Regions from separate parts of the Homo sapiens genome. Here all the other regions are reported to be linked to region 4. Evidence: microRNA targets listed by miRTarBase, many of them from high-throughput screens and not tested one by one. Region 4 holds a microRNA gene; each other region holds the end of a gene's coding sequence.
Evidence for each region. Region 4 holds the annotated microRNA hsa-miR-1915-3p (CCCCAGGGCGACGCGGCGGG, at 2,433-2,452, opposite strand). A microRNA usually pairs through its seed, bases 2 to 8, with sites in the 3' UTR of a target mRNA and lowers its output. Matches are read on the target gene's strand: a 7mer-m8 pairs with bases 2 to 8, a 7mer-A1 pairs with bases 2 to 7 and ends in A, and an 8mer does both.

Region 1 (3,590 bases), not on the chromosome of region 4:
AGGCTGAGGTGGGAGAATTGCTTGAGCCCAGGAGTTCTAGGCTGCAGGGACCTATGATCACACCACTGCACTCCAGCCTGAGCAACAGAAAGACCCAGTCTGAAAAAGCTAGACAAATACTAGGAAAAAATAGAAAATTTTACAGTTTTACAATGATGTTGAGCACTTAAAAATGTATTTGGTGAGTATTTAAAATGTTCTTATTAAGTGTATGTATTTTGGCCGGGCGTGGTGGCCCACCCCTGTAATCCCAGCACTTTGGGAGGCTAAGGTGGGTGGATCACAAGGTCAAGAGATGGAGACCATCTGGCGAACATGGTGAAACCCTGTCTCTACTAAATATACAAAAATTAGCTGGGCGTGGTGGCGCACACCTGTAGTCCCAGCTACTTGGGAGGTTGAGGCAGGAGAATCACTTGAACCCGGGAGGCGGAGGTTGCAGTGAGCCGAGATCACGCCACTGCACTCCAGCCTGGGAGAAAGAGCGAGACTCTGTCTCAAAAAAAAAAGAAAAAAATAAGTATATGCATTTCTTCTGAGATTCCTTTTCATGTTACCATTTTTTTCCTACGGCGTTGTCTTTTTCTGATTCAATTACTGAAGCTTTATATAGATTAGTGTTAACTCTTGTTTTGTTAAATATGCTGCAGGTATTTCCTCCCAGAATGCATTTGGCTTTTAATTTTGCTTATGGTTTCTTTAGCTCTACAAAAAGAATGTTGACTTCATGCATTTAAATCTGCCAGTATTTTCCTTTGTGGCTTCTGGGTTTTGTGCTAGACTTGGAAAGTTCCGGGGGTCCTTTACTGCTGGTCTGTGGGTGCTGCAGGTCCTGCCTTGCCCTGCCCAGAGCACGTTCCTCTTCCCTTCCTGTGGGTCAAGGTAGCCCCCAGGCCAGTTCTGAAGCCAGTGAGGCTGGACTGGTCCTGACCTCTTCCCGCCTGTGTGCGAAGCTCTTCCGTCTTCCGTCTCGGGGTGAAGGTGGGGTGAACTGTGACAGAATCGCACGCTGGGGCTTGACATCTAGATGACGCGTCCTTGCCTCCTTCCAGAAATGCCTTTGGTGCTGCAGTGGCTCTGCTGAGAGGACCTTATGACCCTGGTGTCGGGCATGTGTGGCCAGTACCCTGGGACACTCTGAGACCCCCCTCCCACACCCTTGGGGCTGGCAGCATCGAATGGGTGGCCAGACTGAGAGTTGCCCAGGGCCGTGTGTGTAGCTGGAGGCCTGCAGCCTGCTGCCGGGGGTGAGAATGTGTTTGGGACTGAGTTTGGGATACTATTTGGGCCTGGTTTGGAACTTGTTCGGGTCTCGCCCCTTCTGGAGTTGATACCAGGGACTTTTGGGCCTCTGTTTGGAGCCAGGATGAGGAGTTTCAGCCGAGCTCTGAGCAGGGCCTGGCGTTGAGGCCTGCAGGAGGTTAGGGCCTCCTGGTCAGGCACAGGGTCCCCTGGTGCTCAGCTCCCCCTTGGCCCTGATCTGGGACCTTTGCTGAGTGCTGCGGCTGCCTGCGCTGGGTGACCTCTGGAGAAGGCCTCAGGACCAAGCTGGGTCCACTCGCTGGGGTCAGGTGGGGTGGGTCCGGCCCTCACTCTTCCCTAGGCCTATTGGGTGACCCAGGCAGTCCATGCCCCTCTGGACTCTCTGCTCAGTCATTCAGCGCTCTTTCTGCCCCTCTTAGGCCCCAGGCACTGCCATCAGTGTCCCCATCATCCACCAGTAGCAGGGGTCCCGGCCCTGCCTGCCCTGCGTACACAGGGACATGGAAAGCTGTGGCCCCCATGCTGTTGGTCCTGGGGCTGAACTCGCCCTCCACCTGCCTGGGGCTGGGAAACCCCTCATTCCCACCTCCAACCCTGAGCTGCTGGGACGCCTGCCTCATCACTGTTGGAGCCTCCCTGTTCTTCTGGAACCCGGAGCTTTAGTCCTGAGGGCTGTGTGGCCTGACCTCTGCCCCCCAAGAGGCCTGGAACCCTCCACGGGATTGGCTGTGGTGATTCCCATGGTCCTCCCTTTCCCACAAGCCCTGAGAAGGCCATGAGGCCCATTCCCTCCGTCCCCTGTCCCCTGCTGGTCTCAGCTGAGCACAGAGCCCACTTACTAGGGACTCTGGTCCCTAGAGGCTTCAGGGACCATATGGCCGGAGGACACCCAGTCCTTCCCTGGGCCAGGGTGGGAGGAGCAGGGCAGTAACTGGAGATGGCAGGAGAAGGTGGGAGAGGGTTTCAGGCCCGGGGTCCCCTTACTTCACCCCAGCCACAGACACACAGACCAGAAGCAGTGCTCAGTCCTCTATTGGAGATTCTGCCCCCTCTGGGACAGATGTCCACGCTGCCCGCGACTCCTGAGCACACTCCCATGGCGGGTGGCGTGCTCTGGGTGGGTGTGCGGCAGTGGCCGGTCAGGGTGTAGGGAAGGGGACTGAGAGGGGACCTTGGTGAGCTTGCATTTGTGTGGGGATACACGTGAAGGGGTGTCTGATCCCAGGACTCAGGGCCTCTTCCTCCTGGGGGGCACACAGAGCCCCTTCCCTTCCTCCTCGGGGAACAGCCCCGGAATGGGGCCTTCCCTTGGTGCCTCTAGGTCCTGCCCTCCAGCCCATGTCCCCAGAAGGTGGTCTTTCCTTGGAGGGGTCAGAGACTATAGCCCAGGGCTCTGGGGTCACTGTGGGAACATCTGCCTCAGCTCGGCACGCACTTCTCCTGGCCTGTTTCTTCCACTGGGAACTGGGACCCTAACCCCTCAAAGGGGGATCCCTGAGCGAGGGTCATGGGCAGGGAGCTGGTATGGACGGGTGTGTGCGGGGAGGGGTGACTGGCGGGGGCTGGGGTGTCAGGGGGCTGGGGTGGCCTAGTCGTCTTTATCCTTGGCGCCATGTTTGAGGATGCGGGTGAACTCCACGTAGTTGAAGTTGCCTTTCTTATCAATGGGTGCCTCCCGGTACATCTCGTCCACTTCCTCATCTGTGAAGCGGTCACCCATGGTGGTGAGCAGCTCCCGGAGGTGGTCCTCATGGATGAAACCTGCGGGCAGGGGCAGGGTGGGTGAGAGCAGGAACTTGGGCTGAGACATACACAGCAGCCCCATCCCTCAGCCCCCTGGCAGCTCTTGCAGACCTAGAGGGGCTGGGAAGATACAATCTTAGTCTCTGGTCAGTCTGAGGAATGAGGACGTGGCAGGAGGGGTGTGGGGGTGCACGTGAAGGGGTGTCGGATCCCACGTGAAGGGGTGCCAGGGTCCTGAGGGGAGGAGTTGTGCAGTGGGACTGTCTCCGAGGTGTCACTTGGGGAACTTGAGGCTGTGCACACAGATGGTGTTGGGTGTGCCCTGTTTTAAGCGTGAGCTCTGGAGTTCCACTGCCTGAGTTGCAGTGCTGATTCCCATTCTCCCTAGCTATGTGACTTTGGGCAAGGTCCTTAACCTCCGTGTGCCTGTTTAATCTAGAAAACAGGGATGAACGTATGCCATTGCAGTGAGGGACCGTGAAGGTAGTCAGGCCCGTGCGGGCCCATGGCCATGTTACCATGGCCATCATCACCCTGACATGTCCCTGGGAAAAATGAGCTGAGGGATGGAATATCCGTTAGGA
Region 2 (3,590 bases), not on the chromosome of region 4:
CTGTCACAGATGTAGCAATCCACATGCACTTTTGCTGGCACTTGCCCCGGGTTACTGAAAACTCATCTGAGATGGTGGTCTTCTGAAATTATTCTTTTTTTTTTTTTTTTTTTTTTTTTCTGGAGACGGAGTTTTACTCTTGTTACCCAGGCTGGAATGCAATGGTGCAATCTTGGCTCACTGCAATCTCCACCTCCTGGGTTCAAGCGATTCTCCTGTCTCAGCCTCCCGAGTAGCGGGATTACAGGTGCATGCCACCACGCTCGACTAATTTTTTTTTTTTTTTTTGTATTTTTAGTAGAGACAGGGTTTTATCACATTGGTCAGGCTGGTCTCGAACTCCTGACCTCCAGTGATCCGCCCGCCTTGGCCTCCCAAAGTGCTGGGATTACAGGCGTGAGCCACCATGCCTGGCTTTTTTTTTTTTTTTTTTTTTTGAGACAGTCTCGCTCTGTAGCCCAGGCTAGAGTGCAGTGGTGTGATCTTGGCTCACTGCAAACTCCACCTCCCGGGTTCAAGTGATTCTCCTGCCTCAGCCTTCCAAGTAGCTGGGATTACAGGCACATACCACCATGCCTGGCTAATTTTTGTATTTTTAGTAGAAACAGGGTTTCACCATGTTGGCCAGGCTGGTCTTTAACTCCTGACCTCAGGTGATCCGCCCACCTTGGCCTCCCAGAGTGTTGGGATTACAGGCGTGAGCCACTGCACTCGGTCTGAAATTATTCTTGATGGGTACAAATATAGCCATTTCTGGAGAAACACAAGCTGGTCTCTTAGAAGACAAGTGGTTGCAGATTATTAAAATGAGAGGTGGAACCCAGCAATCCCACACAGGTGGTGGAGCTGTGACGTGGACCACCTTCTCAAGACCTCAGCTTCTCCTCCTCCATCACAAACAACACTGTCAGGCTTCTCACGATTTTTGGCTTGAGGGAAATACAGACACATCAGATAGAATTCTGCATAATTCCCTGGGATTTGATCCTGGCTGGACTTATTGGCTGCATGACCTTGGGCAAATGATTTATCATCAGTCTTCATTTCCTCCTATAAATGGACAGTGTCGCTTGGTGGATAAGCAATCACATGTGAAAATGGCAACACAGAACCAGCATACAGCAACTCGGTCCTGCCCTGAACCCCAGTGAATGGCTTGAAAGAAATAACACCAGCAATCAGGTAACAATGAGACATATGCAGCTTTATTTAATAATCTGTAAAAAGTCATACTCTGGCAGAGTGATGCATTCCTTATCTCAGCAGAAAGCAAACAGTCTGTCTGAAAAGCCCCTTCCCAAGATTTGGAACTGTGTAACCCTGAGCTTACATCTCAATGCTCCCAAGAGCTGGGCTCTTGCTATGTGGTAGTTGGTCTCCACAATTCTCTCACCCTCCAGCAATACTCTCTGTCTGGCTGTGACTCCCTCACCTAACAGTAGACATGAGGCTGAAAACAACTTTACCTGGACAGGGCTACCCCTACAGATTGGCCCTTTCTCTCCTACAAAAGGGAGTTCATAGGATTAACAATCTTTCTAATGGCTGGGAGCAATGACTCATGCCTGTAATCCCAGCACTTTGGGAGGCTGAGGCAGGTGGATCACCTGAGGTCAGGAGTTTGAGACCAGCCTGGCCAACATGGTGAAACTCCATCTCTACTAAAAATACATAACTTAGCTGGGTATGGTGGCAGGTGCCTGTAGTCTCAGCTACTCGGGAGGCTGAGGCAGGAGAATCGCTTGAACCCAGGGGGCAGAGGTTGCAGTGAGCCAAGTTTGCGCCATTGCACTCCAGCCTGGGTAACAGCGAGACTCTGTCTCAAAAAAAAAAAAAGACTCTGAGAAATGGGTTCTGTATCAATTTAATTTGGCTTCCATTACATCTACTGAAATCAAGGCTATACTTGTTAAACATGATACTGTGTTAATGGCTGTTCCTCTCCCCCCACCCATTTCTCCCCCATCTACATGCTTTTTAGGCCAAACCTCTCCCCTTTCTGGGAACTGAGGAATGGAGACACACTCTCTGTCACAGACCTAAGAGGCACTTCTTGTGGATATGTGGATGTCTGGTATCAGATACTGCAGCGACAGCAGTTTTGCTCTTCAGAGCAGAGGCCTGGCATTTTGTTTCCACCTTCCTGTGCTAAGAGAGTCCAGTAATTAAACCACATTCACTCCTTGGAAAAAACTCTATGTTGTATCAGAACCTCAGCGATGGTTCATGGGCTTCCAGCAGAATATATTCCTCCCTTTTATTTATAGAAGAGTATACAGAAATTCATTTGGACAGAAGGAGCCTCTCTATGTAACAGGCACCCTTCTGCTACTGGTCACAATCAATCAATGGTCCAGACGGCAATTATGATTTTCCACATTCCTCAAAGCTGCTCTCTCCTGAAATCACTTTGCAAATTTTGTTGACCAATTTGCAAACAAAAGAGAATGCAGTGGCCTACCCAACCTAGAAATCTGTTCTGCCTAATTCCCTTAAAAACACCATTGAGAATGCAAAATAAGTCCCTTTTTTGTTTTTTGCAGAAGCACTACAAGAAAGCGTGTCTAAAACCACAGAACTATGCACACACAAACACAGACACGCGTGCTCGCACACACAGAGTCGGGATCAAAGAATCTTATCTGATACATAGTTGGGGGAGCACGGGAAAAAGCTGGCAAGAGAGGATATGGAGAGATCTGATCAGCTAAAGATGTTGGAATGTTACAGTATGGCATGGAAGTGGTTCTTGGGCTATACAAAAAAGGGGGTGGGCAGGCAGAGAGAATGATAAATCCAGGCTACTAGAGAGAGGTTCAGTGGCCATGCATGAGTTAAAGATAGTAGAGGCCAGTTTACTGGATGAAATGTTATATTATGGAGTGGTCATTTGAAGGATGGACTTGCAATGGTCCAGGGGAGGAGCATCTGCTTAGCAGGACACCTCCATGGTCTGGTGTCTGTCCAGGACATCAGGGGACTCACAGGATTCTTGAGTTCCATCTGACTGATTGCTGGTGACAGACCGGCTGAAGGGACTTTCTCCAGAGCCGAGGCTACTCGAGGTTGAGTGGGTTCGTGATCGGGCGAGCCGAGTCATGCTGGCAGATGGTACTGTAACAGAGAACCAAGGGGACTAGAAGATGAAGCCCCGGTTAAGCCCAGCTAACCTAGGAGTCTCATCAAAGTCTTTATGTTTAGCTTTTCCGACTCATTTACCATGACACCCAGGACAAGATATAGCCATCCCCATTTTGTATCATTTGCTCTAGGTGAGTGGCGATATGTGAGGCCACTTTAATCCTTTAGATCTGGTTGGAATCTCAGCTGATTGTAGTCACCGCAGAACAAGGGGAAACCCTAAATCCAGAGTATAGCCTCTTAACTATGCCCACACCATTCAGACAGTGACAGAATGGAGGCTTTGGGAACCCAAACAGGTAACCAAAACCTACAGTGCATGCAAGACTAAACCAAAAGAAAAGAAAGACACACACACAAGTATGAAGGTGTTTCACAAACACAGTGCAAGCCCGATACAACGAGACTACCATCCGTGTCCACAGGCTACCTTGCTACCAGGGAGGAGA
Region 3 (3,566 bases), not on the chromosome of region 4:
CTCCAAAACCATTTTCACCTCTTCAAAAAGGGGCCATCCCCCCAACTCTGTCCACCTCACACTGAAGTTGGGGACTTGATCATCACCTCTTCCCAGATCATAGGAAGGATGAGGCTCATTTTGACCTTGACCCCTTTGCAGGGTGAGAACAAAGAGGGGTTGTGGGCAGCTGGGGGCCCCAGTACCAGCAACCTTGACCCCCCACCTGGTACTGGGCAGCTGCTCTGACACCAGCAGCGCTTTCTGAAGAGGGCTTGCTACCCAATACACCCATTTCACAGAAGGGCAAACTAAAGGTCAGAGTGGGCACCCAGACAGGGATGGGTCCCAACTTACCGTCTCAAACCAGAGACACCAGACCTCACCGGTTTCCTATGATACTTGGGTGGGGAGGGGGCGCACTTAAGGGGAGATGACGGATGCCCCAACCAATATTGAACGTAGGAGGAGATTGGGCTTTGGGGGTTATTTCACATACAAAAATAAAGCAAACCAGATTGCAACTTCTGCTTGGTAATTAGGCAAATGGAAAGCAGCAAGGGTGGACGAGGGGCCCATGGAGGCTGATCTCCCAAGGGAGGCCGATCCGTGCAAGTGTGTGGGAGGCGGGGGTACTAGAGAGGGGAGGAAGGAGGCTCCACTCACCCTCGGTCCCATCCACTCGGGCCCCCATGGGCACTGCCCACCTCAAGGCGGTGTGCCTGGTGCCTCTTCATGCACCAAGGCTGGCCCGGGCTGCTCCACTTGGAGCTCAGGCCAGCAGAAGCAGACCACCTGTGGCAAGGGAAATGCATTCCCTCTCCCCAGCCACCCCCAGGGGCCCAGCTTCTTGCCTCCTGAAGCCTGCATCCCCTTTCAGGCCAGGGAGGCTCAGAGAGGTTGTGGGCTTTAGGGTGACCCGTGGGGAGGGAGGTCTCCCCCATAGGGTGGCGGTGGTGGGGACCAGATGGCCCAACAACTGGGAAAGGAACAGAAGGGGGCAAGAAACCAAACTGCCCACTCACCAGCCCCCTGGAGAAAATCACCAGTGACAACCCCCACCCTCCCAAACCTCAGCTTGCCGGGACCTGCAGCTTGGGTTAGCTCCCGGGGGCCCGCTGTTGTCCTTCCCTTTGAGCAAGCACGGGTGTGGAGATCTGGGTCCAGGCCCTCTCCACAGTGCCTGCGATGCCAGGGGACCTGCCAGCTGGGCCCAGGCCTCCGCCCCATCCTGACATTGCCACCTCACCTGTGCAATCACTGCGTTACTATTTTTTCTTAAATAGCTCTTTCTCCCCCGCCACCCCCCCATAGGAATCCCACAATATTTTTTTCTATTTCTTTTTTTTTTCCTCTTTTTTTGTTTTTGTTTTTTTGCAAAACTAATTCTTTCACTTTCCTGTCATAAAATCACCTCTGAAAACACAACTTCTTTACAAAAAAGTCACGAATGACACGAACTCTCAGGAAAACACATTTCTATGGTCTCTGGAAACACCTGTAACTGGCACCCAGGTGGTCACTCACCTGGGGGAGGGGGTCAGGGGGAAATCACCTCCAAGGACAGAGGAGAAATACCAGCCCTTATTTGGGCGAAAAGCCAATTGGCACTTGGACGGCCACAAAGCCAACACACAGGGCAGGGTAGGGAGGGGCCGAGGAGTATCAGCCCCCGCCCCAACCCTGCGAGGGTCCCCGTTCTACATCCCGGGGAGGGGAGGGCTAGGGCCACGCTGTGGGCCCTGGCAGGGAGATTGGGAAGGAAGGCAGCCTCCCATTCTTAGGACCAAAGGCGCTAGGGTTCTGATCGGCCTCCTGCCAACGTGCTTCTGAGGGAGGGGCCCATGGCAGCACAGCCAGGAAGCCAGCTCCAGCCACGCCTGGAACACGCCACCCACGCACAATGGAGACCCGGGAAGTGGCCCAGGGCTGGCCAGCGGGGCCCCGGTCCCAATTCTGGGACCAACACCCTCATTCTCCTGGAGAACACAGACCCTCTGGTCTCCCCTTTGCCTGCCTGCCCTCCCAGGGCCTGGCCTAAGGCTGGGGCTGTGGCCTCTGCCACTGGCACGGGTGCCTCAGCTCCCAGGCAGCAGAGGGAAACAGAAGCTGCCCAGGACACGGGAGCCTCCTTTGCTTCAGGCAGGCTGGGCTGTGAGAAAGCCTCCGTGGTCAGAAGCAAAAGAGGGGCTGGGACAAGCCGGGAGGCCCTCGGGAATGGATTCTTCAGCATCCTCCCCAAACACCCGGAGGAAGAGGGAGCTTGGAATGGGGTCTCCCTCTCTATCTCGGTCCCCACCATGATGTGAAGTGAAGGTCCGACAGGTTGGGCTGACCACCCTGAGGAGGGCAGGGGGGTGGGGGGCACGGTGCCCCCAGCACACCTGGGCCAGGAGGGGAGGCCTGGTGACTTCCACAGCAAACCTCCAGACCCAAGCCTGGTCCCCAGGCCTACTGAGGCGAGAGGCAGTCCAGGCCTTCAATGCCCCTGTTCAAAGGAACTGTAAAGGGTGCCACCCGGCAGCCTGGGGCCTAGCACCCAATGCATGTATGAACCCACGGACAAACACAGCGAGTGGGGCAGACGCACAACTGGAAGTTTCCACGGCAGGTTCTCGTAGCACCTTTGGTCAAGAACTGAAGGGGCCTTTAGATGCGGGGAGGCTGTGGCCAGGCGCACCCTCTGCCAGTTCCTCCCACCGTTGAGGGGGTTAGGAAAGAGCCAGGGCTGGGGCAGGGCATAGGGGGTCTACTTAGGCCTCGTCCAAAATCGAGCAGGGAAGACCCCGCCCTGGCCCAACTTCTGATGCCCTGGCTGATGTGGAGGGAGGAGCCGAGTCAGGCCTCATCCTTGGCCTCTGCCTGGGACTTTGCCAAACAGGCAGGAAGCCCTCCTCCTGCCTAGGCATCTGCAGGAAGGAAAGGGACTGTGTCCACCCTCGGTGGGGGGCTCCTAAGGGCCCCACAGCTGCCAGGTTAGCACCGAGAAATCAGACGCCGCACAGGAGAGCAGGAAGCAAGCTAGAGAGACAGGTGGGATGTGGAAGGGGCAGAGGAACCCTAGTTTCTAGGGCTTTCCAGAAACCACCCAGTGGGCTACCATGCATGGGCAGGGGGTGTGCCCTTCCCCTGCCCCATTCCAGGGTGGCCCCTACCCCCGGCTTTCTGGGACCCCAACTACCCAGCCCCATCCCTGGGTCAACACCGAGCCATTTGAGACAAGCAAAGCACAGGGAGAGAGGGCTGGGGGCAAGGGTGGGGTGGGAGCAAGAGTATGACTTCGGGCAGGAGGGCCCCCCCAAGCCCCCCTCCTTGGTGGAGCCCCCTCACTTGCTCGCCCCAATGCTGCCACCGCCCCCAGCGGCGCCTGCTACCCCAGCAGCCACCTTCTCGAAATCCTCAGGGTTGCAGAATTCCTTGATTGTGACCGTCAGGAGGTTGCTGGTGACATCGGTGACGACCACATTGGAGCAGGGTGACATCTCGGGGCGCCAGTCCCCAGCCTCGGGCTCGGAGGAGGCACCGGCGGGCTCAGGGGCCGTGGGAGGTGCCGGGCCGGCAGCAGCTGTGACCTCAGGCGGTGCCCG
Region 4 (3,590 bases):
CCCGAGTCCCTGGACTGGCGACCCAAACTCCTACACTTCCTGCCCGGTGCTGGGAAGAAACCCAGATCAGCAGACAAATCAACCACACCCTGAGCCCCAACATCGAGCTCCAACATGTGCCTTTCCCGCCGAACGAGAAAGCGCGGACCCCTTGCAAGCAGCATATAGCCTCGGCGTGACCCGTGGAGAGGCGGGACCCCAGTGGAGAGAGAAGCACGGAGAAGCCTGGGAAGGAGCTTGGTAAGAGGGGCACAGTCCAGGCTGCCCCATGCGCGCTGGGGTTGTCGCCGCGCCTCCTGCGCGCCCCAGTGCCCCCAGAATCTCCAAGAAAGCAATCGTGAGCGCGGATCAGTTTCTGTCTTTCCCAGAAAGCGGGCTTTTTATTGAGGGGAAACTTAGCTGGGAAAAGTCAGCTCGTACGTTTGTTTTGGTTTTTCGTCTATTTGCTTCCCAATTTAAAAGTGGCCGCCTAGGCGACAGGCCTGCGGTTTTCACAGTGTAAAACGGATCAGAGGGAAAGCTCCAGCCCCTCTCGACTTTCGCTTGCGGTTTGCAACCCCTGGGGTGGGTCTGACCCCGCGCGGCACTTGCCCAGGCGAGCTTCCCTCGTCGCGGCCCGACCCGCGCGCGGACTCGGCTTCCCCAGGTCAGGACCCACTAGGTGGGCCGCTCGGCCCCAAGCCTGGCAGGGCGGAGCCTAGGCCGCGCGCCCCGGGGTTGGAGGTTCCCACGGAGCCGGGAAACTGCGCGCCCCAGGTCCGCAGGCCGCCTCCCTTCCCTCGCGCCCTCGCACCCGCCCTCTGCTCTGCCGCTCCCGGTCCTGGGTGTGCGGGAGTCCCGGGGGTCCCTCTCCTGGACGCAGAGGAGGAATTTGGAGCAAAAGGAAGGGAATTTACTGCGGATGGCACCGGAACCTGAATTGACTTGTGCGTTTCCTGCTCTGGGCACGTAGGTTTCCCCTAGGAATCTGGAGTTCGCTGAGGACACTTAATTCCAAGAGATGATGGGTTCACATAAACATACCATTTAGTTAAGAAAAATATTTAAAATAAAGAAAAAAGAAAAACTGAACTTCGATCTTCTTCTCCACGTTCCCTGGTGTCACCAAATAAACAAAGCATTCGGACGAGAGTGGGCTGCTGGGGGCTCGGGAGGTGCGCGAGACAAGGTTACCCTGCGGGTCCGCCACTGCCCCCGGCCTCCAGCACTGCACTGCCCACGAGTTTGCGGGGTGTGAGCGCCGAAGGAGAACCCCGGACCGCCCAGTCTCAGCCTAAAAACTTGGATCCAAGAGTCCTACGGTTGTGGATGTGCCAGTCCTCCGCGACCCTTTCCTGCTGGCCTTCTGCTTTTTATAAACGAAAATAAAAGTTTGATTTAGGCTTAAAGAAATGTCATTCTGGTCGTTCCTCCCTGAAGCGGGACTTACTCAACCTCATATACTCGCCCGGAATTTTCAATCTCGCCTGTCGAAATCGCTAGCTGCGCATCCGCGGAAGAAGTCCTGGATGAGAGGTAGGGTGAAGGGATCAAGCAGATAGCAGCAGGCATCAGCACACTCCGGCCGTTCCGGACGGTCAGGCCCGCCGCTACAGGGAGAAGTGCGGCGGATGGAGCCAGGGCTGCGGGTTGCGCGCGGGCTGGGAACCCGGTGGTGCCACCTTAAGAGTCGGGTCCGCGCAGCGGCTGCGGAGGCGCCCGGCACCTGCAGGGGGCGCTGCTGCCCCGTGGTTTCTCCCGCGCCGCCGCGTGCAGCGGGCCTGGCAGCTCCGGGGCCCCGGTCCCCGGAGGGGGTGGGGACGCTGGGGGAGGAAGGGAGCGAAGTGCAGCCGTTAGGTAACGAACCCGAACCCTCCCGGATTCAGAAGCGGCCTCAGTGAGGCGTTTGCTGGAGGGAGCTTTCCATCATTCGGCCGCGAGAGGAAACGTGGGGAGGCGCCCTCCCCTGCCCCCACCGCCTGCCTTCCTGCCTCCCTCCACCTCCGCTCCCCGACCCCGACCGTGCTTCCCAGACCCTTTGTTCTCGAGGTTGGGAACGGCTGGGTGGGGGTTCCCCGGGGAAGAGGTCCCCCGCGCCGCTCGGAGGGGAAGGGACTGTCGCCTGCCCCGCACCCCAGCCCTCCCCAGTGCCGTCCCCCTTTCCCCCGGCCCCTTCCATCGCGTCCACGCGCTTCCGTTCTCACTCGGACTCCCCCAACTCCCGAGCTCCGGCTCCCCAGCCTGCACGGTCTGCAAGCCCGCCTCCCTTCCCACTTCCCCGCCACCTCTGAGGTCCCCGGGAAGAGGGGAGGAGAGGGAGACGTGTGGGGGAGGAGAAACCACAGAGCCTTCTCGGCGCGGAGCATTCCCAGGGACCCTTCCAGGCCCCGACCCCTGGGACCCGCTGCAGAGGCAGGGCTTTCCCGGCGCCGCCGCAGGTCGCTAGGGCCGCCCCCGCCGCGTCGCCCTGGGGCCCACGGGTGCACGGCCCGGGCAGCAAGGCAAGGTGCGGCCTCTCAGCGCCAGGACCCGAGACCCCCAGCTGGAGAGAAGGGGACACCGTGGTCCGCGCCCTGGGGAGGCTAATTGCACACGAACGCCCCCCTCTTCCCCGCCCCCCACCGTACCCTCTGCAGCGCCACCCGCGTCGCCTCTCCGCCGTGCGCCACCCTGAGGGCTCCCGCGATTGCATCTTCTTGAGCACAGTTACCAATGCGTTCAGCTTCGTTTCTTACTCGGATGGAGACATCGCGGAGGGAAGCGAGGGGACAGGGATGCGGTAGTAGGGGAAAGGTGGGGCGGGAAACCGAGCAGAGAGGTGGGAGACTTGGCTGAGGCAATGGCACCAGGCAGGGCCGCCCGGAGTCCCGAGTCCAGGTCCGCGAGGCAGGCCCCGGTGCAGCCGCGCCCCGGCCGAACCCTACATGTCCTCTGTACTGTGGACACGAGTCCGCGGAGCGCCAGTCACACCCCCGCACCCCTGCAAGCTCCCGCCGTAGAGGGGGCTCGGCACCATCCTGGTCACAAAGTACGTGCCCCCACCCCCCACCCCCAGGTGAAGAGGACGCAGCCCGGCGCCGTCAGCTCCAGGCTGCCTGGAGCCCCCTCCGGCCTCTCGGCGCGACCCTGGTCCTCAATGGCTCGTCGCGAGCTGCGCTAGCTGCTCTCTCGGCAGCGGGTTCCCCAGGACACACCCAGTCCCCACCCCCCGAGAGCTGGCGGCCAGCTCAGGATGCCAGGCGGCCAGGCGGGCGCCCTGCCAAATTCCGCGTTCCTCTCCAGGAGACGGGGAGTTGCGTCCCAGGCTCGGGAAAGCCCGCAGTTCGGGCTTGGGACTCGCTTACAAAGCCCCCCAAGGCGCCAGGGACGCCTCTGCAGGTTGAATTCCTGCTCCGTATCACTTCAATTTTAATTAATCTTTTAAAACACCGCTGTCACGTCGCTTGCAGAAAATTAATCAAACTTGAATCCTTGTTGCATAGCAAGAATTTCGATCCGAGTCTTTTAAAAAGGACTTGACTTTGCAAAGTCACGTCTTTTACAGTTCCCTCATTCCCCCTTTAGCAAGGGAAATACTGCAAAAGTCAAGACATGTTTGTTTGGTTCTTTCT

Region 1: the mRNA of MYL9 is a reported target of hsa-miR-1915-3p. Seed matches in the 3' UTR shown: 7mer-m8 at 2,648-2,654, 7mer-A1 at 2,483-2,489 and 7mer-m8 at 1,202-1,208.
Region 2: miRTarBase lists NDRG3 as a target of hsa-miR-1915-3p. Seed matches in the 3' UTR shown: 7mer-m8 at 1,748-1,754.
Region 3: the mRNA of CBX6 is a reported target of hsa-miR-1915-3p. Seed matches in the 3' UTR shown: 7mer-A1 at 2,063-2,069, 8mer at 2,003-2,010, 7mer-m8 at 1,902-1,908 and 7mer-m8 at 813-819.

What each region holds. Positions count from the first base shown.
Region 1 is chr20:36,548,511-36,552,100 of GRCh38, reverse strand. It overlaps MYL9 (myosin light chain 9), which reads right to left. Exons shown (of 4, transcript NM_006097.5): 4 at 654-3,024. The coding sequence ends at 2,852. All of the region lies in intron 2 of DLGAP4-AS1 (DLGAP4 antisense RNA 1), which reads left to right. Among named protein-coding and RNA genes, the nearest start is that of MYL9, 8.8 kb to the right of the region's middle.
Region 2 is chr20:36,650,588-36,654,177 of GRCh38, forward strand. NDRG3 (NDRG family member 3) reads right to left here. Exons shown (of 16, transcript NM_032013.4): 16 at 1,184-3,114. The coding sequence ends at 2,933. Among named protein-coding and RNA genes, the nearest start is that of SLA2, 6.2 kb to the left of the region's middle.
Region 3 is chr22:38,862,904-38,866,469 of GRCh38, forward strand. It overlaps CBX6 (chromobox 6), which reads right to left. Exons shown (of 5, transcript NM_014292.5): 5 at 1-3,566. The coding sequence ends at 3,306. Among named protein-coding and RNA genes, the nearest start is that of CBX6, 7.5 kb to the right of the region's middle. RefSeq lists enhancers at 1,149-2,028, 2,029-2,906, 3,025-3,566.
Region 4 is chr10:21,494,144-21,497,733 of GRCh38, forward strand. MIR1915 (microRNA 1915) reads right to left here and starts at 2,498; the gene lies at 2,419-2,498. MIR1915HG (MIR1915 host gene) reads right to left here and starts at 3,117. Exons shown (of 2, transcript NR_160800.1): 1 at 2,607-3,117; 2 at 1-1,802. RefSeq lists an enhancer at 380-1,173 and silencers at 685-784, 1,598-2,037, 2,088-2,137, 2,348-2,597.